2 linked regions of the Homo sapiens genome follow. The protein of the gene in region 1 purifies or fractionates together with the protein of each later gene. This does not show direct contact. Each region holds a gene or a part of one and is shown on either strand. Other genes may lie near its edges.

Evidence for each region.
Region 2: the proteins of ALDH1L2 (region 1) and WDR11 purify together in Homo sapiens (affinity purification with mass spectrometry; 3 studies listed by BioGRID and IntAct, with this or other methods). This does not show direct contact.

The regions. Positions count from the first base shown.
Region 1 is NC_000012.12:105,077,553-105,089,065, reverse strand, and holds the start of ALDH1L2 (mitochondrial 10-formyltetrahydrofolate dehydrogenase precursor), read left to right. Parts: upstream 1-4,607; 5' UTR 4,608-4,629; coding exon 4,630-4,677; intron 4,678-11,513. UniProt on the Homo sapiens protein: Mitochondrial 10-formyltetrahydrofolate dehydrogenase that catalyzes the NADP(+)-dependent conversion of 10-formyltetrahydrofolate to tetrahydrofolate and carbon dioxide.
Region 2 is NC_000010.11:120,852,124-120,863,029, forward strand, and holds part of WDR11 (WD repeat-containing protein 11), read left to right. Parts: intron 1-400; coding exon 401-512; intron 513-3,628; exon of another isoform or gene 3,629-4,007; intron 4,008-6,519; coding exon 6,520-6,673; intron 6,674-7,985; coding exon 7,986-8,159; intron 8,160-10,611; coding exon 10,612-10,798; intron 10,799-10,906. UniProt on the Homo sapiens protein: Involved in the Hedgehog (Hh) signaling pathway, is essential for normal ciliogenesis.

The sequences.
Region 1 (11,513 bases):
TGTTGGTCAGGCTGGTCTCAAACTCGTGACCTCAGGTGTTCCTCTTACCTCGGCCTTCCAAAGTGCTGGGATTACAGGTGTGAGCCACCGCACCCAGCCTCAAATTTTTTAAAAAAAATTACGTGTGATGGTGCATACCTGTGGTCCCAGCTACTCAGGAGGTTGAGGCAGAAGGATCACTTGAGCCCATGAGATTGAGGCCACAGTGAGCCTTGTTTGTGCCACTGTATGCCAGTCTGGATGACAGAGCAAGACCCTGTCTCAAAGAGAGAGAGAGAGAAATTTATAAAGAAAACATCTCTTTTTTTTTTTTTTTTTTTAAAGTCAGGGTCTCTGCTCTGTCACTCGGCTGGAGTGCAGTGGTGCAATCATAACTCACTGTGCCCTCAAACTCTTGGGCCCAAGTGATCTTCCTACTTCAGCCTCCCAAGTAGCTCGGACTACAGGTGCATGCCACCATGCCCGGCTAATTGTTGTTGTTGTTGTTGTTGTTGTTTTAGCGATGGGGGTCTCCTTACATTGCCCAGGCTGGTCTTGAACTCTTGGCCTCAAGCGATCCTCCTGCCTGAGCTTCCCAAGTCACTGGGATTACAGTCGTGAGTCACTAGCCTAGCTCACATCACTCTTATATATGGTAAAACAGAGTATTCAGCAGAGCAAAATTTAAAAATATAGAGAGAAACAGCAATGTTTCCAAATAGTCAATATGGCTACATGTTAATTTCAGTCAAAAAGCAACCAAACAAGAAGAGGGCATGGAAACCCATAGAATTTTGTTCTAAAATCCTTGAAGTTGACTGTGGAAGTAAAAATGTTCTACACACATTTTTAGAAGTTTATAAATTATATGACTTGCAATTTCATAAAATTCTGAGTGAACGTTGTGTCTAGGACAAAACAGATCCCTGATCAACGTATTATATTTGCACAAGGCCCCTAATGTCACAGATATTAGTCACTAAACAAAACATTTGTCTATGGCAGAATGAGTAGATTCCAATTTAGGGCCAAGTGCAGTGGCTCACGCCTGTAATACTAGCACTTTGGGAGGTGGAGGTGGGCAGATCACTTGAGGCCAGAAATTCGAGACCAGGCTGGGCAACATGGCAAAACCCCTTCTCTACAAAAAAATACAAAAAAAATTAGCCGAGCATGGTGGTGTGTGCCTGGAATTCCAGCTACCCAGGAGGCTGATGTAGAAGGACCACCTGAGCCAGGGAAGGTCAAGGCTGCAGTGAGCTGTGATCCCACCACTGCATTCCAGGGACACCAATTCCAAAAAATAAAAAATAAAAAAGATTCCAATTTAGTATTCTGTAAACCCAAGACCCTAGCCACTCCTACTATGCAAGCTTTACATAGAACTCTAACTTTCATAGAGTTTTGTGTGGGAATTCTTGGGTTTCAACTTGGCACATCATCTATGTACTTTCTAAAGCGTGAAATTAATCCAGACACTTACAAAAAGTTATTCAAATGATTGTATTTACAAAAATGGCACAAAGTGAATTAAATAGTCTATGCACATGCATATATATATTTGAACTCCATAAAACATTATTATTATTGTTCTATACAATTAATATTAACTTAAATTTGCCCTCATATTAATCCTTTACATTACTATTCATTCTTTCATCTGTGAGTTTCCATCTGGGATTATTTTCTTTCCTACAAACTTATCCAACAATTTTCTATTGTTGTTTGGATATTTGTGTATTTTCATGTATACATATATAAACATAATACTTTATTATATTAATTATAATAATTTATTATTGTTCATGTGGTCAATGTTCACTTTTTTTTTTCTTGAGACAGGGTCTCACCCTGTCACCCAGCTGGAGTGCAGTGGCACAACCACAGCTCACTGAAACCTCAATCTGCCAGCTCAAGCGATCCTCCTTACTCAGCCTTCCGAGAAGCTGGGACTAGAGGCACGTGACCATGCCTGGCTAATTTTTGTATAATTTTTGTATTTTTTTGTAGAAACAGTGTTTCACCATGTTGCCCAGGCTGGTCTCGAACTCTGCCCACCTCATCTTCCCAAAGTGCTGGGAATACAAGCGTGAGCCACCACGTCCAGTCCAATGTTCACTTTAAATTTGCTCACGTCTTTGCCTTTTTTGTTGGGCTTCTTGCATTTCTAGGTTTCCATGTGGGTAAATTTTTTTTTCCTGCTGGAAGGATACTCTTTCATATTTCCTTTATTGTCTGTCTGCCGATGACAAATTCTCTCAAGTTTTTGTTTCTAAAAATGGCTTTGTCTTATCTCTATTTTTAAGGAGTATTTTTGCTGGGTATAGAAATAGATTGGCAGGGGTTGGTCTCTTTGTCAAACTCTAATTGCATCTGATCTAATTTCCAGTTATCAAGGAAACTATACTTTTGATTCTTCCAGGGAAAAAGTAAACACAATGAATATTTCATTATATTTGAGTGAACATAAATTCTACATTTCCTAAACTTGGGAATAGTAATATATAACTATGGAACCTCATTCAGGAAAAAAAAAAAAAAAAAAAAAAAACCCCTCCTTATGCACCCTTCTAGTATACACAGATCAGAATAAATAAAGGGAATATCAATATTTGGAAGTTTAAAAAAGCAAGAAGTCACAAAATGCAGTCAGGAAAGTGGGTTGAATTGGCAAGATGTAGGGCTCAAAGCAAAACCTTGGATGTTTGTTGCAATTCTCCAAGTTTTTTTTTTTTTGAAACAGAGTCTCCCTCTGTCGCCCAGGCTGGAGTGCAGGGGCGCGATCTCGGCTCACTGAAAGCTCTGCCTCCTGGGTTGACGCCATTCTCCTGCCTCAGCCTCCCAAGTAGCTGGGACTACAGGCGCCCGCCACACGCCCGGCTAATTTTTTGTATTTTTAGTAGAGACAGGGTTTCACCGTGTTAGCTAGGATGGTCTCGATCTCCTGACCTCGTGATCCGCCCACCTCGGCCTCCCAAAGTGCTGGGATTACAGGCGTGAGCCACCGCGCCCAACCGCAATTCTCCAAGTTTTAATGATGGTTCTTTTTTGTCTCCTTACTCTCTTAAACACATTCATCCGTTTCAACAAGTTTTTTTTTAACAAGTTATTTTTTATTTTATTATTATTTTTTTAAAGCTCTGGTTAGTGCTAGATACTGTAAATCCTGATTAATCAGACATGGACTTAGCTTGCAAGGAGCTTCCAACAGAGACGTTAATAGGTATACAAATACCAGTAGCAGATTGAGACAGCCATAACAGATGCATAGACAAAGATTATTTCCTGTTAAGAGGAGTGAACAATTATTTATGGGGAATAAGGAGACTAAGAGAGAAAAGAATCAGAAAAAAGCGCCTCCAGGAGGCAGCATGTAAGCGGTACCTTTCAGAAAAGAAACGGTCGTGCCAAGATAATTACAAGTGACAGATGACAAGCTTTTCTGGGAAACATTGTCCAAGAAGGAATAGGCAAGAACTGCAGTCAAGCAGAATTACATATGCAAAAGAGCAGTGAGAAATAAGAGAAAATGGCAAATTGCAGACGGCCCTGAATGCTGGGCTAAGAAGTCTGGCTTGAGATAAACGTCCAGCTAAAGCAGGTCTGAGCGTTTTTTCCAGAGAGGTGAGGGAGAAGGGCACGTATCTATTAGGTTGATGCAAAAGTAATTGCGGGTTTGCCATTATTTTCAGTGGCAAAAACCACAATTACTTTTGCACCAATTTATTTATTTATTTTTAAGACAGAGTCTCGCTCTGTTGTCCAGGCTGAAGTGCAGTGGCATGATCTCAGCTCCACTGCAACCTCCGCCTCCCCGGCTCAAGTGATCCTCGTGCTTCAGCCTCCCGAGTAGCTGGGACTGCAGGCATGCGACATCACGCCCGGCTAATTATTTTATTATTTTATTATTTTTTATTTTTAGTAGAGACGGGGTTTCACCATGGTGGCCAGGCTGGTCTCGAACTCCTGAGCTCAGGCCATCTTCCCTCCTCGGCCTCCCAAAGTGCTGGGATTACAGGCGGGAGCCACCGCGCCCGGCCTACCGTCCTACGAGGTAGGCATCAGGATCCCTCCACAGCGAAGGCGCCCCCACTACCTATCTGTCTACAGGCGTGCCTTTTACGGGCTGTGCTATGGACAGCACTTGGGATGTCAGATTGACCACTAATAAGGTAGATCCGTATACACTGCTGCGGGGCTGAGTAACTGGTAGAGGGTCCCACAGTTAGAAAGCACCTGGACCTTGGCTGGAATTGGCGGAAAGTCCAGGCAGCGGAGAGGCGCGGTCCCTGGGACTGGGTGCGCTCTTGGCACCAGGGTCAGGGCCCACAGGCTCCAGGAAGCCCACGCGCTCCGCCGGGTCGCACCAGGTTGGCTGTCCGAACGCAGCCAGCTGGCGGGGCGGGGCCTTCCAGCTGGGGGCGGGGTCTTGACAGCTAGGGGGCGGGGCCTTGCAGCTGGTAGGGTGGGGCGGGCCGCGGGCTGTGGGCTTTGGGAGGGGTGCGGACTAGCAGAGGCCGAGAGCGGCGAGCCGCGAGCCAGGCAGTCCGGGGCATCCAGACTGCAGGCCGCGCCCAGGCCGCGCCCAGGCTGCGCCGCCCGCCTGCCTCCCGCGCTGCCGCGTCGCCAGTGCTAGCGCTCCTCTCCAGCATGCTGCGGCGGGGCAGCCAGGCGCTCCGGCGCTTCTCCACTGGCCGGGTGAGTCCGGCCCGGGCGAGCGTCCCGGCTGTCACCCTGTCCTGGTTTCCAGACTCCGGGGCGGGAGGGCCGGGGCGGTGGGGCTGGGGATGAGCAGCGATGCTTAGACTTTGCTAAACACCAAGACAGCGTTTAAAACAAACAAACAAACAAACAAAAACAGAGAGACCTCAGAGGAGGGCTTGGGGAGGGTCCCGGATGGGAACTGGCACGCAGGCCATTGTCTTCTGCCGGGAGGGGGCTGAGGATGCAGTTTTTGGACGTGTCAAGTCTGGCTGGGATGGCAAGGTGGGAACAGTCACTTGGTAAGGAGGACAGAGTCTGCTTCCTTTCCTTTTTCACTTCAATCATGAGATCCCTGGTCAAGAGCTGGAGCCATATGGAACCGAGACTGTCTCCTGGAGGAGGGGAGTATCAAGTCAATAGGGTCCTCGTTGGCGGCCTGGGAGGTGTAAGCGCTCGAGACTGGCACGCAGGGCCGGTTCAGATAATGGCACTCAAAGCTGATGGCTGCAAGCTCAGTATTCCTGAGCTGAGCTGCAGATGGCAAAATTTCTAGAATTGCCAGGCGCTGCAGAGGCAGCCACGCTGGAACACTATTCTACTGTAGCACAAGAACCGAGCTCTGGCCCAGCCCCGCGCCTTGGAATTGCATCAGCTCCTCCAGAAATGGAACCGAGAGAGGACACGTTGCACTGCGGTGCTGCCTTCAGCACCCAGGGGGCCTCGGGACTGTTTAGGGAAGAGAGAGAGAGAAAAAAAAAAAATAAAAACTGTCTTATGTATCGTATCTTTTATAGGAAGTACATAAAAGAATTTGCTTATCGATTCTTTTTCTCGGCCATGCCAAAGCCATATGTACATATGTATATATTCAGATGTAAAAAACTTGGAGGCAGAGAGAAGTCTTGAGTAGCACCAAAAACTGGCCCAAACTTGCATCAAAGGAAAAGCTTTCTGTATCCCAGACAACCCCAAATAATAAGAATTCGTTTTACTCTTTGCAACCAGTTCTAGTTACTTTGAGGTATAGTCACCTTTTATAAAACGAGGGGTGGGGGTGGGGAAGACCTGCTCTGCTAGGACTTTGGCCTGCTCTCCTGGACCCCTCATTAGCTTCCCCCACCACGTGGCACATGGGATCCCAGATGGATAGCACAGAAAGCAACGGGCTGTGCCCAATGCCTGAGCCTGTTTTGTTGGCCTCCTCTGTCAACACCTTTCACTGACTTGTCTTTTTTGGTGACCAGAAGGAAGTCTTGCAGAATGAAAAGATTTTGATAGTGCGGTTTGCATAAGATTTCAGTAATAAAAGGTAAACATCTCAGGTGGCAAATGGCATAAACAAAACTATGGATGTGGGGAAGAACTGGCGTGATCAGGGTCTAACTGTACGCAGGGGTGCATATGGAAAAGCAGTGATACTCATGGCTGGGAAGAAGACAGTTTCCTCAGTGGTCGAAAGGAAGCTACTGAGTGGTGAATGAAAAATGTGGGATGTTTTATCCTGTAGAAAATGTTCTGGACTGTGTTTTATAAGAATTATTCAAAATCAAACAGATACATGGCTGGTGGAAATATAAAATGGTACAGCCACTTTGGAAAACTGTTTGGCAGTTTTATATGTAGTTAAACATAAACCTATCATATGACCCCGGAATCACACTCCTAGGTATTTACTCAAAAGAAATGAAACCTTATTTGCCCGCATAGAAACCTGTTTATTGATGTTTCTAGAGGTTTTATTCATAATTGCCAAAAACTGGAAATAAATTGTCCTCAGCTGGTGACAGGATAAACAAGCTGTGGTATATCCATCCATACAATGGAATTCTACTCAGTTGGGGGAAAAAGGAATGAACTACTGATGCATACAACATGGATGGAACTCAAATATGTATGCTAAGTGTAAGAATCAGACTCATAATGCTACATATTTTATGATTTCATTTATCTGACATTTTGGAAGAGTAAAACTATAGGGACAGAAAAAAGATCAGTGATGTCTGGAGCTGGAGATAGGAGGAAGGATTGATTATAAATAGGCATAAAGGAATTTGGGCGGTAATGGAACTGTTCTACATCTTGATTATGGTAGTGGTTACGTGACTGTGTGTTTGTTAAAACTCACAGCACAGTACACTGAAGAGGGTGCATTTTACCCATGCAAATTATCTTTTAATTTTTATTGTTTTGAGACAGAGTCTCACTTTGTCACTCAGGCTGGAACGCAGTGGCACAATCTTGACTCACTGCTACCTCTGCCTCCGGGGTTCAAGCAATTCTCCTGCCTCAGCCTTTTGAGTAGCTGGGATTACAGACATGCACCACCATGCCCAGCTAATTTTTGTATTTTTAGTAGAGACGAGGTTTTGCCATGTTGGCCAGGCTGGTCTTGAACTCCTGGCCTCAAGTGATCCTCCTGCCTCGGCCTCCTAAAGTGTTGGGATTACAGGCATGAGCCACTGTGCCCGGCCTAATTATCCCTTTATCTTTAAAATTTAAAAATCAAACAATGCTTTTAAGTTTAGTATTAAAGCAGAATGAAGGATGAATAAAAATAAAGCTTTCAGAACCTAGCAAAATCCAAGGGGAAAATTAGTTTATAACACTTCTTGATAGAATTCATTTCTCCATCCTCTGTCTTAAATAAAAGGACTTAGAAATACTTAATGATTTCAGCTTAGTGATGGCTGGATCTTTTTAACTAAAACAATGGTTTGCTTTAAAACCCTTTGTCAATTAGATATTATTGCCCACCTCTGATATCCTGCCTGGCTCACTGCTTCTTCTCCCTGTGGTAGGAGTTATTTAGCCCTCTATTCATTGACATTCCTTTGTTTAGCTTTCTCTGCCAGTGTCTGGGTCAGGTCTGTCTGGTAGCTCTGGGTTTATAGCCTGGCTCCAGGTAACTTGAGGTTACCTTATGATCCAGTCCAAAGAGGTGGGACCCTTCCTTGCTCTTTGGAACCAAGTACCTGCTTTATTTCTCAGTTCTAGGAACCAGGTTCTTGTTTCATCATTGCCCGACCTCTGCTCTGGTGTCTTATCTGTTCATAGGATCTCCAAATTCAGCTTTAAACTGTATTTAATTGTCTGTTATACACTGAGGACTCTAAATCCTGAGGATATAATATTAATAGATGCATTAATAAATGCTTTACATATACAATTGTCCCTTGTTGTCCCTTGTATTCATAGGGGATTGGTTTCAGGACCTCCCGTGGATATCAAAATCTGAAGATGTTCAAGTCCCTTATATAAAACGGGTAATATTTGTATATAACCTGTGCATATTCTCCTGTATACTTTAAATCATCCGTAGATAACTTATAATAATGAATACAAAGTAGATGCTATGTAAATAATTGTCCCACTGTATTGTTTATGGAATAATGACAAGAAAAATTATACATGTCTAGTACAGATGCAATTTTTTCCAAATGTTTTCGATTCATGGTTGGTTGAATCCACGGATACAGAACCCACAAATACAGAGGGCGACTGTGTACTCCTTTAATCCTCATGATATCTCAATGAAGTAGGTACTAGGTTAAGCATCCCAAATCTGAACATTTGAAATCTGAAATGCTTTAAAATCTGAACATTTTTGAGCACTGACATGACACTCAAAGGTAATGATCATTACAGCATTTTGGATTTCAGATTTTCAGATTTGGGATGCTCCAATGGTAAGTATAATGCAAACATTCCAAAGTCTGAAAATATCCGAAATCTGAAACACTTCTGGTTCCAAGCATTTTGGATAAGGGATTCTCAACCTAGATTATTATGACCATTTTGCTGATAAGAAAACTGAGACCCAGAAGTGAACTAACTTTTTCAGACTCTCATAACCCAAAAGATAAAACAATAAACAAGAAAGAAATAGTCCCATTTTCAAGGAGTTCATAGATTAGTGGGACAGACTATTAAATCTATGTTTTTAGGAAAAGAATAATAATACATAATACACTAACTAAAATGATATACCAAAAATGAAATATAAATGAGCAATAAAATATGAAAATACACTCAACCAAACTAGTAATCAGGCAAATGCAACTTAGAACAAGATACCATTTTTCACTCATCAGGGTGGCAAAAATCATAAATTTGACGATATTGTGTGTTTAGCAGGGGTGAGAAAACAGTTCATCCACTACTCTAGAGGTCAATTTGATGCTACATATTTAAATTAAATTTATGTTTAAAAATGATCCTGCAGTTTCACTTGTAGGTATCTGAGAAAAATACTTCTACATGGGCACAGGAAGCATGTACCATGATATTCATTGCCATGGTATTTGTAATAATGACATATTGAAAGCCAAAATGTTTCTCAATAGGGACATGAACAAATAAACTGAGATATAGCTACACTAAGGAATACTGTGCAAGAATTTCAAAGAATGAATTATATGTACGAACAAGGAAAGTTGTGGAACATTACGCATAATATTATTTCATTTGAATTATTTTTGGAAATACAAAACAATACTTTTTGTATATATTTCCATGTTTTTAAATGCCTAGGAAAGGTCTGTAGAATTCACACCAAACAATAGTAGTTTCCTCTGGGGAGTGAGAAGGGGATGCAGATTGGGAGTGATGGTCAAAAGGGACTGTAGTCTTATCTGTGATCTTTTCTTTTCGTAAGGAGCTTGTGTGTATATGTAATATGTATAATTAAAAATTAATTTTAAAAATTTTATACAATTAAAATATTATAGTAAATTCTGTGCATGGAAATCCTGCCTCTCTAGTACTGGAGTCCGTTTCTGGACTCGAGCCCTTTGGACTGTCTCTCCCTTTACTCAAAGTCTTTGAAGTGTTCTGTGGTCACCAGCCTCGGCCCAGGAGCTCTCTCCAGCCTCTGAGTCCTGGGCATCCCCCTCTGGCATCACCTGCTCATAGGCCCCTGTACTGACATCCCTCCTTTTAAAATATTTTATCCTTTTTATGATGAAAAAACAAAAGTTGGCCAGACATCCAAGAAAGCCCTCACTGATATCTTCTTTATATAATGAGGCAATAGGAACATCAAGTTGCGCAAGCTTGCCATTTAGGATGGTATCCTGAATCTTGCAGATCTACCTCTATGTAAAGTGTACTTGTTGCTTCTGTTAGTATGAGAGTTTGTTACAATTGGTTGCAAGAGCTTTCACACTATTCCAGACTATATCCTGTGACTATGCTACAGGTGGATTGCTAGGTCAGCTTTGATTTTCACGCTCTGCTCCATTCTCAACACAAGAGGTGTGTCTACCCGGAGCTAGTTCATGCCTCCAGAGTTACCTAAGCAGTCTATTAGCATAGAAACTAGACTCTCCTGGTTTCAATTAACTCTCCTGCTTAAAGCGGCTCAGTGAATCTCATTGTCTTCACAATAAGGTCCCAATTATTTGACACAAAGCGCTCCATAATGTCTCTTGCTACGGTGTCGCTTGTCACCACTCCTTAACTCCCAGTATTGGACACGCTGTGCACATGCATTTGTTTCTTTGTAAATACCGCACCCTCTGCCTGGAACTTCCCAAGCCTCTCCCTTTTCTCTGCCAACTCCCAAGATGGATTCTCTAAGATTCAGCTAAGTAACTCCCTTCTGGAGAAGGCTTCTCGTCTCTTAACCAAACTGTGCTCTCTTATTCTAGCACTGTTACTATGTCTTAGCTTGTGTGCCCTCCCTACTAGTTGGTGGATTCCCGAGTACAGGGACTGCTTCTTTTTATCTTTAGTGTAAGGGTCGCAAAGAGAAATTCCCACAGAGGCCAAACAGGTAAAGCAAATGAGAGATTTGAGCTGCATAGAGGGCAAGACCATGTCTAGGGTAAAGGGGCCACCACTGCTCAGCGCTAGCTGACTGTTGCTATACGGCGCCACAGACCAGGGTTGACAAACCTCCTGAGTTTTTTTGATTTTTGTTTTTTGAGACAGAGTCTTGCTCTGTCGCCCAGGCTGGAGTGCAATGGCGCGATCTCAGCTCACAGCAACTTCTGCCTCCCGGGTTCAAGCGATCCTCCTGCCTCAGCCTCCTGAGTAGCTGGGAATACAGGCACGCGCCACCATGCCCAGCTAATTTTTTTGTACTTTTCATAAAGATGGGATTTCACCATGTTGGCCAGGCTGGTCTTGAACTCCTGACCTCAGGTGATCGGCACCCAGCCAAACCTCCTGAGTTTTAAAGACAAGTTAGAAGTTGTGCCTTCTGAGGTGCAACCTCCTAAAAATCTTAACAGAGTCCTCTTAAAAATGCTTTGTGGGCCAAATAAAACACCCCTGCCAGGCCAGTAATGTGCCACCTCTACCATGCACTACGCCCAGAGTGTGGCAAAGCCTGAAAACATGCTTGTTGGATGAGTCTTGCACAGAGTCAGGCACAGTTTGGGGCACTCTGTGCCGGATGCTCCATGAAGTGTTAGGCACCTCAGGGTCTCAGGAAAATGTACTTTGTTTTATTCTTTTGTGTGAAGGTCCTCTGTGTGAAACTGCCAATTCTTACTTGGATAGCTTTGGCCTTACTTTACACCCTGCCCAGATGGTTCTATTAGCATCTGGCCAAAGGGCTTCAGATCAGGGCAGACTCTTCGCACTGTGCCTTGAAGTTTTCTTTGGAAAGCTATGTGTACCTTTTTTTTTTTTTTTTTTTAATTCTTGGAGCATAGTCAGGGTCTGTATTAACTTGCTTCCTGAAGAATTCCACCAGAGGGTGGACAGCCTGGGAATGCATTATTTGACAATTTGGAAAGCAAAGGCTCTGCTCCCTGCAAAAGTCTCCTCTAGTGAAGAATGTTCTCTCTAAAGAAACAAGGTCGGGCGTGGTGGCTCACGCCTGT
Region 2 (10,906 bases), on another chromosome or scaffold:
TTGTGCAGTGTTTGTCGTTTTATTTAGTTGGAAGGACTAGGATTAGTCGCAGTATCCCCAGGCACATTGTGGATACTAAGGATTAGAAATCGGATAAGCGAAAGACGTATGCCTACAAGAACAGTCAGAGGGCACAAGTTCCTTTTTATGTCCTCGGGTCTCTATTTTCATATCTTTTAGAACTTTTTTTATCCGAATGAAAAGTGAATTTCAACAAGCATTTTAAGCTTAGCCAGATCTTTTATTTAAGTGGGATAATGATAAATACTGGCCTTTGGGTTTAAATGATTTTATTAATGGTGGTACATATGAATTAGACTTATCATTTATTTAGGCTTGGCAAGAAAGAAGTCGTCCTGCTTTGTTCTGTACTTAAACTTTAACATTACTGTTTTGCTAGGGGCTGGCAAGGTTTAATTGCTTATGGATGTCATTCACTTGTGGTAGTGATTGATTCCATTACTGCCCAAACTCTTCAAGTTTTAGAAAAGCATAAAGCTGATGTTGTAAAGGTAAGTAAAATCCCACTTTGACGCTAACATGTTGTCTAGTCTAAAGTTTAATACTGTGTATCACTAAGCTCTCATTAAGTCTTACGTGTAAGTGTTGAATAGCTTTTAAATATAACAACCTATTTGGGGTAGCCTAGAATTTTCATATATATGACTTAATGTCAATACAGGGTGAGTTATTAAATGCTAGTTGTTAGATCATTTTAAGGCAGATGAAAGTTCTACCATTTACAAGACCACTCAGTCATTCCTTAGTTTTGAGCACTTACCATATGCTATGGATATGGAGATGAAAGCCCTCAGATAATTCTCCATCTTATAAGGAAGACTCACAGCGTGATAGTGTGATAAGTGAGACTTGCGTAACACGCTGTGAGAAAACAGAGGAGCTGCATATTGCCTGGTTGTGAGGAGAGTCACAGAAGTCTACAGTTTCAAGACTAGTAGACAGTAGTTAGCCAAGTAAAAAATTGACAAGGAGCATTGCAGGGAAAAGCAAGAATATACACAGAAGTAAGTAGCGTGCCATAAAGATGGCTAAAGATGGGACACTTGTAGGAGTGATGAAATAAGAGGCAGCCAGAGAGATTCAGCTGTCTGTCCTGAAGTTTTGTAAGATTACGAAGGAGTTTGGATTTTTTTTTTTTTTAGACAGAATCTCACTCTGTCGCCCAGGCTGGAGTGCAGTGGCATGATCTCGGCTCACTGTAAGCTCCACATCCTGGGTTCACGCCATTCTCCTGCCTCAGCCTCCTGAGTAGCTGGGACTACAGGCACCCACCACCATGCCCAGCTAATTTTTTGTATTTTTAGTAGAGACCGGGTTTCACCATGTTAGCCAGGATGGTCTCGAGCTCCTGACCTCGTGATCCACCCGCCTTGGCCTCCCAAAGTGCTGGGATTACAGGTGTGAGTCACCGCGCCCAGCAGGAATTTGGATTTTTGAGTAGGAGATTGATGTGACCATATTCGCGTCTTAGAAAAACTCTGGCAGCAGTGGAGGATCTGCTGAAGAAATGCAAGACTGGAGGCAGTAAGATCATTTAGGAGATTTCTGCAGTAATTTTGGTGGGAAATTCTAAGGGCCTAAAATAAAGCTGGGGCATGGAGAAGTCATGTTTAAGAGCAGCAAAGAGGTAAACCTGATAGCCTTTATAGTGATCAGTATAAAGGAGAGTAAGAGAATAGAGTGACTCCAAGGTTTCTTTTGGTGTAATTGAATGACAGTGTTTCCAGTTATCAGAGGTAAGCATCTGTGAAGTCAGTGAATTTTTAAGTTTTCAACATGCAAAATCTGAGATGCCTGTAATATATTGCATTATAGTGATCCGGGCTTTAGGAGATAGGTCAGGATTAGAGATAGAGATTTGGAGTCTTTTTCTTTTTTAAATAATAGCTTTATTGAGATACTCATACCATAAAATGTACTGACTTAAAATGCACAATTCTGTGGCTTTTAGTATATCCACAGTTAATGCAGCCACAATTACAATGAACTTTTTTACCTCAAAAAGAAACCCTATATCCACTAGCAGTCATATTCCATTTCCCCCATTTCCCTCATCCTTTGGCAACCACTGACCTACTTTCTGTGTCTGTAGACTGGCCCATTCTGGGGATTTTATATAAATTGAATCATATAATTTGTGGTCTTTTGTGCATGACTTCTTTCACTTAGGATAATGTTTTCATGGTTCATCTGCGTTGTAGCATATATCAATACTCTGTTACTGATGAATAATATTCCACTGTAAGGATGTATCACATTTATTTTATTGATGGACATTTGGATATTTTGTACTTTTTGCCTGTTACGAATAATGCTGCTTTGCACATTCATGTGCAAGTTTTGTGTGAACCTGTGTTTTCATTTCCCTTGAGTATGTTTCTAGGGGTGGAATTACTGACTCATATGGTAACTCTGTTTAACTTTTTGAGGAACTGCTGGACTGTTTTCCAAATTAACATTCTCATTAGTAGTGTATGAGGAGTCTAATTTGTCCAAATCCTCACCAACGCTTGCTGTTCTCTGTTCTTTTGATTATAACCATCCTAATGGGTATGAATTGATTCTCATTGTGGCTTTGGTTTGCATTTCCCTGATGGCTAAAGGTGTGGAGTATCTTTTCATGTGCTTATTGGCCATTTGTATATCTTCTTTGGAGAAATGTCTATGCAGGTCCTTTGCCCATTTTAAAATTGTATTATTTATCTTTTTATAATTGAGTCGTAAGATTTCTTTGTATACAGTAGTCCTCCCTTATCCAGAAGGGAAATGTTCCAAGACCCCAGTGGAAGCCTGAAACCCTGGATAGTACTGAACCCTATATATATTGTGCTTTTTCTCATACATACTTACTTATGATAAAGTTTATAAACCAAACCCTGTATATACTGTTTTGTCTCATACATACTTACCTATGATCAAGTTTATAAATTAGGCATAATAAGAGATTAACAACAATAACTAATAATAATAAAGGAGAACAATTATAACAATACATCAGCATTACTACTCTTGCACTTTGGGGGCATTATAAAGTAAAATAAGGGTTACTTGAACATAGCACTGAGATATCACAACAGTTGATCTGATAATCAGTATGGCTACTGAGGGCAGGTGGTGTATACAGCATGGATGTTCTGGACAAAGGGATGATTTATGATTAAGGCAGGATGGAACAGGACAGTGGGAGATTTCATCATGCTATTCAGAAAAGCGCATAATTTATGAATTGTTTATTTTTAGACTTTTTTGTGTCATATGTTTGGATTGATACATGATTTGCAAATATTTTCTCTCAATTTGTGGGTTGTCTTTTTACTTTCTTGGTGGTGTCTTTTGAAGAACAAAACTTTTTCATTTTGATGTAGTCCAATTTATTATTTTGTATTGTTGTTGCTTGTACTTTTTGTGCCATATCCAAGAAACCATTGCTTTCTCCAATATCAAGAAGATATATACCTTTGTTTTTTTCTTAGAATTTTAGAGCTTTAGCTTTTAATCCATTTTGAGTTAATTTTTATATATGATGTGAAATAGGGAAAAATACTATTAATTTTTGTTTATTGATCATATCCTGTAATCTAGCTAACTTCACTTAGTAGATCTATTTAATAGTAATTTTGGGTAAATTTTTTTTAAGTAGACAGTCATGTCACTGCAAGTGACTGCAGTTTAATGTTTTCATTGATAATCTGTGTGTCTTCTATTTTTCTTGCCATGTTGCATTGGCTAGGACCTCTACTACAATGAATGGGAGAGTAGTGAGAGGATACTCTTGTCCTGTTCCTGAGCTTAGGGGGAAAGTATTCAGTCTTTCATCAAGTCTGATGTAAGGTATAGGGTGTTTTGGGAAAAATATATTTACCTTCTCTTTCCCTCTCTGTTTCCTTTCCCCTACACTGCCCCTTGGCATTTCTGGAGCTTTTATTTCTTTATGTAGGTCCAAGTTTCAGTCTGGTATTATATTCCCATCGACTGAAGAATTTACTGTAAGTTCTTAAAGTGCCTGTCTAATATTGGTTGATTCTCTTAGCTTTTATTTCTCTGAGAAAGTATTTCACCTTTGTTTTCGAAAGATAATTTTCAAAGGATATAGAATTCTGGGTTTATAATTTTTTTTTCTAGTAGTACTTTACAAATATCATTCCATTGGCCAGGCATGGTGGCTCACACCTGTAATCCCAACACTCTGGGAGGCCGAGGTGGATGGATCACCTGGGGTCAGGAGTTTGAGACTAGCCTGGCCAACAAGGCAAAACCTCATCTCTACTAAAAATACAAAAATTAGCCAGGCGTGGTGGTACACACCTGTAATCCCAGCTACTTGGGAGGCTGAGGCAGGAGAACAGCTTAAACCTGGGAGGTGGAGGTTGCAGTGAGCTGAGATAGTGCCACTGCACTCCAGCCTCGGCAACAGAATAAGACTCTGTCTCCAAAAAAAAAAAAAAAAAAAAATCCCTCCACTATCTTCAAGCTTACATAGTTTCTGATGAAAAATTTTTGTTTTTGTTTCTCTGCATTATATCTTTTTTCCTCCGATTATCTTCAAGATTTCCTTAACCTTGGTTTTCAATAGTTTGATTATTAAAATATATATATATATGGCTTGGAGTTTACCTAAATGGAATTCAACATATACATATACAAATATATACACATATACAAACATATATATACACATAGAGACAGTCAATTCTTGTTATTTGTGGTAGCTATATTCTGTAAAGTTGTTGTATACACTGAATTAGTGAATACTGAAACTTTGTTTGCTCCTAGGGGTTAGGTTCTTGTGAGGCTCTGGTCACAACATTTTCATCAACTGATCAATAGATAACCTTGCTTTATATGTGTTTCCGTTTAAAGACATATTAATATGTCAGTTGATCTATTAACATTGAACTCATAGCCAACAACACATGCCTGAGCAAAGATTATCACATATATATATATGTATGTATTTTTTGCAAGACACATCACAACTTCTCATACTTAGAAACGGTAGGCAGTATGCTTGGGGACCTATTTAAACAGTGAAGTCACCAGCAAAAGGAACAAAAATGTGAAAAATGTGGTACTAAATAAATCATGAGATGAACACTTGTTTTGCCATTGGAAAAGCTAAAGCAAGAATTCTTGTTTGACTTCAGCTGGGAACACACATGTATGTTCGGTGACATTTTTTTCACCATTCTGCACTTGTCCACAAAAGCACTGCAAGTATTGATTTTGAGGTTGCAAATTATAGTGAGTAGGTAAATTGACAAATACAGAATCTATAAATAACTAGAATGGACTGTGTACACATATATACACTATACATATTCTATTCATACACATTCTATACCTATGAACTTAAACATATACACATACAAATATGCATACACACATACATATGCATATATACACATACCTCATTTAAAAATTTTTGCCTGAGCAAAAGATCTATTACAGGAAAACCTTAAGGCCTGTTCACGCTCATTTTCAGAAAACGTTGTTTCCATCTTTTTCATGAATACTACTGCAATTGGTTGGCTTACTTTCCTACCTTAGCATTATATATGAGTGTATTTATATCTGTACACATATATAGGTATATACATTTATATGTATTTATAGATTTGTGGTATTTAAATCTACTTATTAAACAGACCTTGGACACTGTACTAAGTCTGAGAATAGAAATGCAAACAAAGACCACATGGTGTGCCCTATGGAACTTACAGTTGATGGACTCATGAATAGGCAAAAAGAATGTAAATAAAATAAGTACAAATTGTGTAGTAGTAAATGCTTTGAAGAAAATAAGCAGGATACTGAGAAGAGAGGGGTGGTAGTGACCAGGGAAGGCCTGACTCCTAGTGAGGACTATGAAATTTTTCCCTTATTCTGTCAGTATTCATTGTTCAAGAATTTAATCAGATTTGCCCTGGAGTTCATGTGTTTTTTATTTTAAAAATTCTATTGTTAATCATGTTGCTATAGGCATGAAGCATTTTTTTTTTTTTAGAGAAAAACTTAATGTTTTGTGAAAGAGAGAGACAGCTAGAGTTTTTTGTTTGACTTTGCCTTCTCCTGACTTTCCCTCTGCAAGGTTTTTGTGTTTCTAAGTTGTCTTCTTTTAGTTAGGAGACTAGAATACAGAAAAACATTCTGCTAAATATGATTTTAGGTATTTTGTCATAAATTAGATCTTAGGAAAACTGATTTTCAAGGCATCCTGGGGTTTTAACCTAAATTTCCCAAAATATTAAGGCTGTGAATCATTTTTCATCACAGGATCTTTGTGATGTGTCAAAGAAAACAATTTTGTAACTGCAGTTAAAGATATCTACCAAAGTAACACAAATGCTGCCTTCAAAATGAAAACCAGTTTTCTGTTTATTCTTGCTAAATGTTTATGTAATATAAATGTAGTATGGGTTCTGGTTGATGTTTTGTGAAAATTATGTTCTGTTTCATCCAGCGCAAGTATTTACTTGATCTGATTTCTTCTTGATACAGGTTAAATGGGCCAGGGAAAACTATCACCATAACATTGGCTCACCATATTGCTTACGGTTAGCTTCTGCTGATGTCAATGGGAAGATCATCGTCTGGGATGTAGCAGCAGGAGTAGCTCAGTGTGAGATCCAAGAGCATGCCAAGCCTATCCAGGGTGAGGAAAGTCTGCTCAGCTAAGTGTGTATATTGATACACTTACTCTTGGAGTGGTTTTTTGGTTTTGGGGGTTTTCCCCCATTCATTTAATTTTATCAATTCCAAGTTAGCTCTTGATTGTGTTTTGCCTATTCTGCTGATCTAAATCTGGCTTTCTGTCCTTACTAATACACTTCTAGGCATATTTCTTCAAATCTCAACTGATTTGTGCTTTGGTAAAACTCATTAATTGCAATATCAGCCTCATTCAAGCATGATAAGAAAAAGTAAGTGGTACAATCTTGTAATCTAAGCTACAATATAAGGAAAATTGGCCACTGCTGTTAGGAACTAGCCATCAGTGCTTACTCTACATTAAGTAATTTGTTCATTATCAGAGATGAACAAAATTTTATTCTCATTTTCATATAGATTGCTTGTTTGTTCGTTTCATGTTACTGACCTAAAACCAGTACGGTATTCTTTTTTTTTTTCTTTTTTTTTTTTTGAGATGGAGTGTCGCTCTGTTGCCCAGGCTGGAGTACAGTGGCGCTATCTCGGCTCACTGCAAACTCTGCCTCCTGGGTTCACGCCATTCTCCTGCCTCAGCCTCCCGAGTAGCTGGGACCACAGGCACACACCACCACACCCAGCTAATTTTTTGTATTTTTAGTAGAGACGGGGTTTTACCATGTTAGCCAGGATGGTCTCGATCTCCTGACTTCGTGATCCACCTGCCTCGTCCTCCCAAAGTGCTGGGATTACAGGCGTGAACCACTGCGCCCTGCCCAGTACAGTATTCTTTAGACTTAAGTCCTCCAGTGGCTCTCTTGACTGAATGAATTTTTTAAATGACTATTTAAAAAATATTTATTAAATACTTACTGTGTACTAGGTACTGAACTAGATCTTTGCATATTCTGTTTATTTTTTGAAAAACCATGAAGAACTGTAAAGTTCCATTAAGTAATTCCACAGAAACATTAGGAAAGTCTGACATCTTGGTTGTGGCTAAGAGAGTTTCATATTGATTTTATAGTTTTAAGTAATGATTAGGGCAAATTGCCTTTTATTTTCTTTGAAGTAATATTTCAGATTACTTCAAAATTTTTACCTTGAGAGTTTAACCAGACAACTTATTTTTATATAGAATTAGTTTTTTCTCTGGAATATTGATACACACACACACACACACACACACGTCACATTTGGGGCTGGTGGTTAAGTTTTTAAAGATTATATTTTAAAAACTAAATATCAAGGACAAGTTAGCCAAGGACTTTGGAGAGTGTGGTTTCTGAATTTTGCCTTTCTTTATCGGGTCTTTCCAGATGTTCAGTGGTTGTGGAATCAAGATGCTTCCCGCGATTTACTGCTTGCTATCCACCCGCCAAATTACATTGTGCTCTGGAATGCCGACACTGGCACCAAACTATGGAAGAAGAGCTATGCAGATAACATTCTTTCTTTTTCTTTTGACCCTTTTGATCCCTCACATTTAACTTGTGAGTAACAGTTGCTTGTGGAAAATGAGTTAAGTGAGATATTTATAATATAGTAATGCTATGTGCATGAGATATACACACACATTATACATCTATAATGTTAAAATGACTGAGCGAAGTGGAGAAGCATGTCTAGTCCATATATCTGCAGCTCCTAATACACATACTCAATCATAAGTTCATATCATTGCAAATATGATAAAAAATTAAATCAGCAAGCTACACCTTCACTGTGTTGAATTTGTGAATAGTATTAGACTAGCCAGGGACAGAGAGTTACTTTGACACTCCAGACTTAATTAGTTCTTCTAAGAACATTTAAATAACTTGAATCAAGGGTTTCATTCAGTCTGTGGCCAAGTTAAGTTCTTGCTTTTTAATAAATTGTCCTAATTCACGCCATTCATTTTGAGTGCCATAAACAGATGCATGTAAAGAAGAAATAAGCCTAAGCAAGTTTTTTCTTGCAGAGATAGTTTTTGCTAATATGCTTTTAATGTTTTCCTGAGCTAATGATCTAAAAATGAGATGTGCTTTAGGTATTTTTGTGGCTAAATTGTTTAGAAACTATTTAATCATCCAACAGATATTTCTTGAGCTATTGCTACTCTTCTGGGAACCAAGATGTCTCAGAACCCAAAAGGCAGGAGCCTTCACAGAGTTTGCATTCTAGTGAGAAGAAGTCATATCATAAACTGTGACCACAATGAATTAATAAATTCTAGTGTAGTAAGAGGTGACAGGTGATATAAAGGCAGGATAAAGGGGATGCAGAAGAATGGGGGATGAGGGCATGCAAGTTGTATGAGATAAAGTGGTCAAAGTAGGCTTCACTTTGATAATGATCAGAAATGTGAAGGAGGTAAGGGAATTAGCTATGGTAAGGAATGTTTTTCCTGGATTTGAATGACTCAAAATTGTTTTACCCATCAACTTTTATTGAGGGGTGTGTGTGTGTCTGCACGTGTTAAAGGAGGAAGAGAAAGGCAGACAAAATTGAAATTATAATAACATGGGAAATGTGGCTGTGTAAATACACTACAGGGTGCTTAGGCTTTTATGTATGTAAATGTTTGTATATGGACGTGTGCATACATACACTCACTTGGTCACCAGTTTACTTACTCACATAGGTGCAGTGCTGGGGAAACACCTAGGAGGGCTGGCCCAGTTGGCAGAGTCAGGGAAGGAGGGCATCACAAAAGAAGGAAGCAAAGGGGACCTTGAAGGATGAGTTCTGGAACCTGAAAAGGCAACAAGGCTTTCAGCTAACTTGATTGCATCAGCTCTTTACATCTCTGTAATTTGGTTGATGAAAGCATTGTGTGTTCCAGAGTGTCAGTTGACCTAACATCTTTGATTTACTCATATTGAATGTGCTAGGGTTGTCATAACTCTTGAATGCATCCTTTTTCCCTGTGTTTAGAGCAGCCTTGCTAAGGGCTGGGACCCAGGGTAGTAAGGTTTTTCTGCTCATGTCTTCCAGTATTAGGCCCATTGTTGAGGGAGATTATTTTTTCAGTCATAAAAAGGCATAATTTGTATTGCTAAATATGGTGCTCCCTCCTTGACTATTTTTGTTTCATGTACACTTAGTAAGTCACTGTGGGCCCACTACTGTTTTCTAAATATTAAGGGAAAAGAATATTCCTTAATCATCTTAAGGTTCGATCTGATGCTTGAGAAGAAAAAGGGAATATATTTAGACTGAGTAGCTCAGGATAAAAATTTGGTATCATCAAATAAAATATATGAACTTAGCTAATTGTGATATGCAGAGCCTCTTAAGTATGGTTTTTTGTTTTTTTAAGTTATGGGATATGTTAAAGTTTTTTTGTTTGTTTGTTTTTTGTTTTTGTTTTTGTTTTTTTTTTTTGAGATGGAATCTTGCTCTGTCACCCGGGTTGGAGTGCAGTGGCACTATCTCGGCTCACTGCAACCTCCACCTCCCAGTTCAAGCGATTCTCCTGCCTCACTCTCCTGAGTTGCTGGGATTACAGGTGTGTGCCACCACGCCTGGCTAATTTTTGTATTTTTGGTAGAGACGGGGTTTCACCATGTTGATCAGGCTGGTCTCGAACTCCTGACTTCATGATCTGCCTGCCTCTGCCTCCCAAAGTGCTGGGATAATAAGGAAAGATTTTTAATGAAAGTCCGTGCCCTGAATTTATTTAGAAGAACAAACACTTGTTCTTTCTGCCAATAACCTTATGTTATCTTTTTAATATAAGACATAATATAGAATGCCAAGCTTGGAGGCCTCTGATGAATTGTAATGGACCACCTGTTTCTCTTCAACTTAGAGAACATTCCCATTATGTTATGAATGCATAACATTGCCAGTTATATATTATTAAAATTATCACTATATTGCTCTCAAAATTGTATTGGAATAAAACTGTATGCTAAACTTCATTAAACTTTAATCAGAGTTTTGCTTTTCTCAATATAGTGCTTACCAGCGAGGGTATTGTTTTCATCTCAGACTTCTCCCCATCCAAGCCTCCCTCAGGCCCTGGGAAAAAAGTTTACATATCCAGCCCACACTCTAGCCCAGCTCATAACAAGCTGGCCACAGCCACAGGTGCCAAGAAAGCTCTAAATAAAGTAAAAATTTTAATCACTCAAGAGAAACCTAGGTAAGTTACAAGTGTAAAATTAACATTCATCTACTTATCTGGTATGAAAGCATCATTTTTGGAGATGTACAAAGACTGATGTTTTTCTTCATCTCACTTTTTCTCATT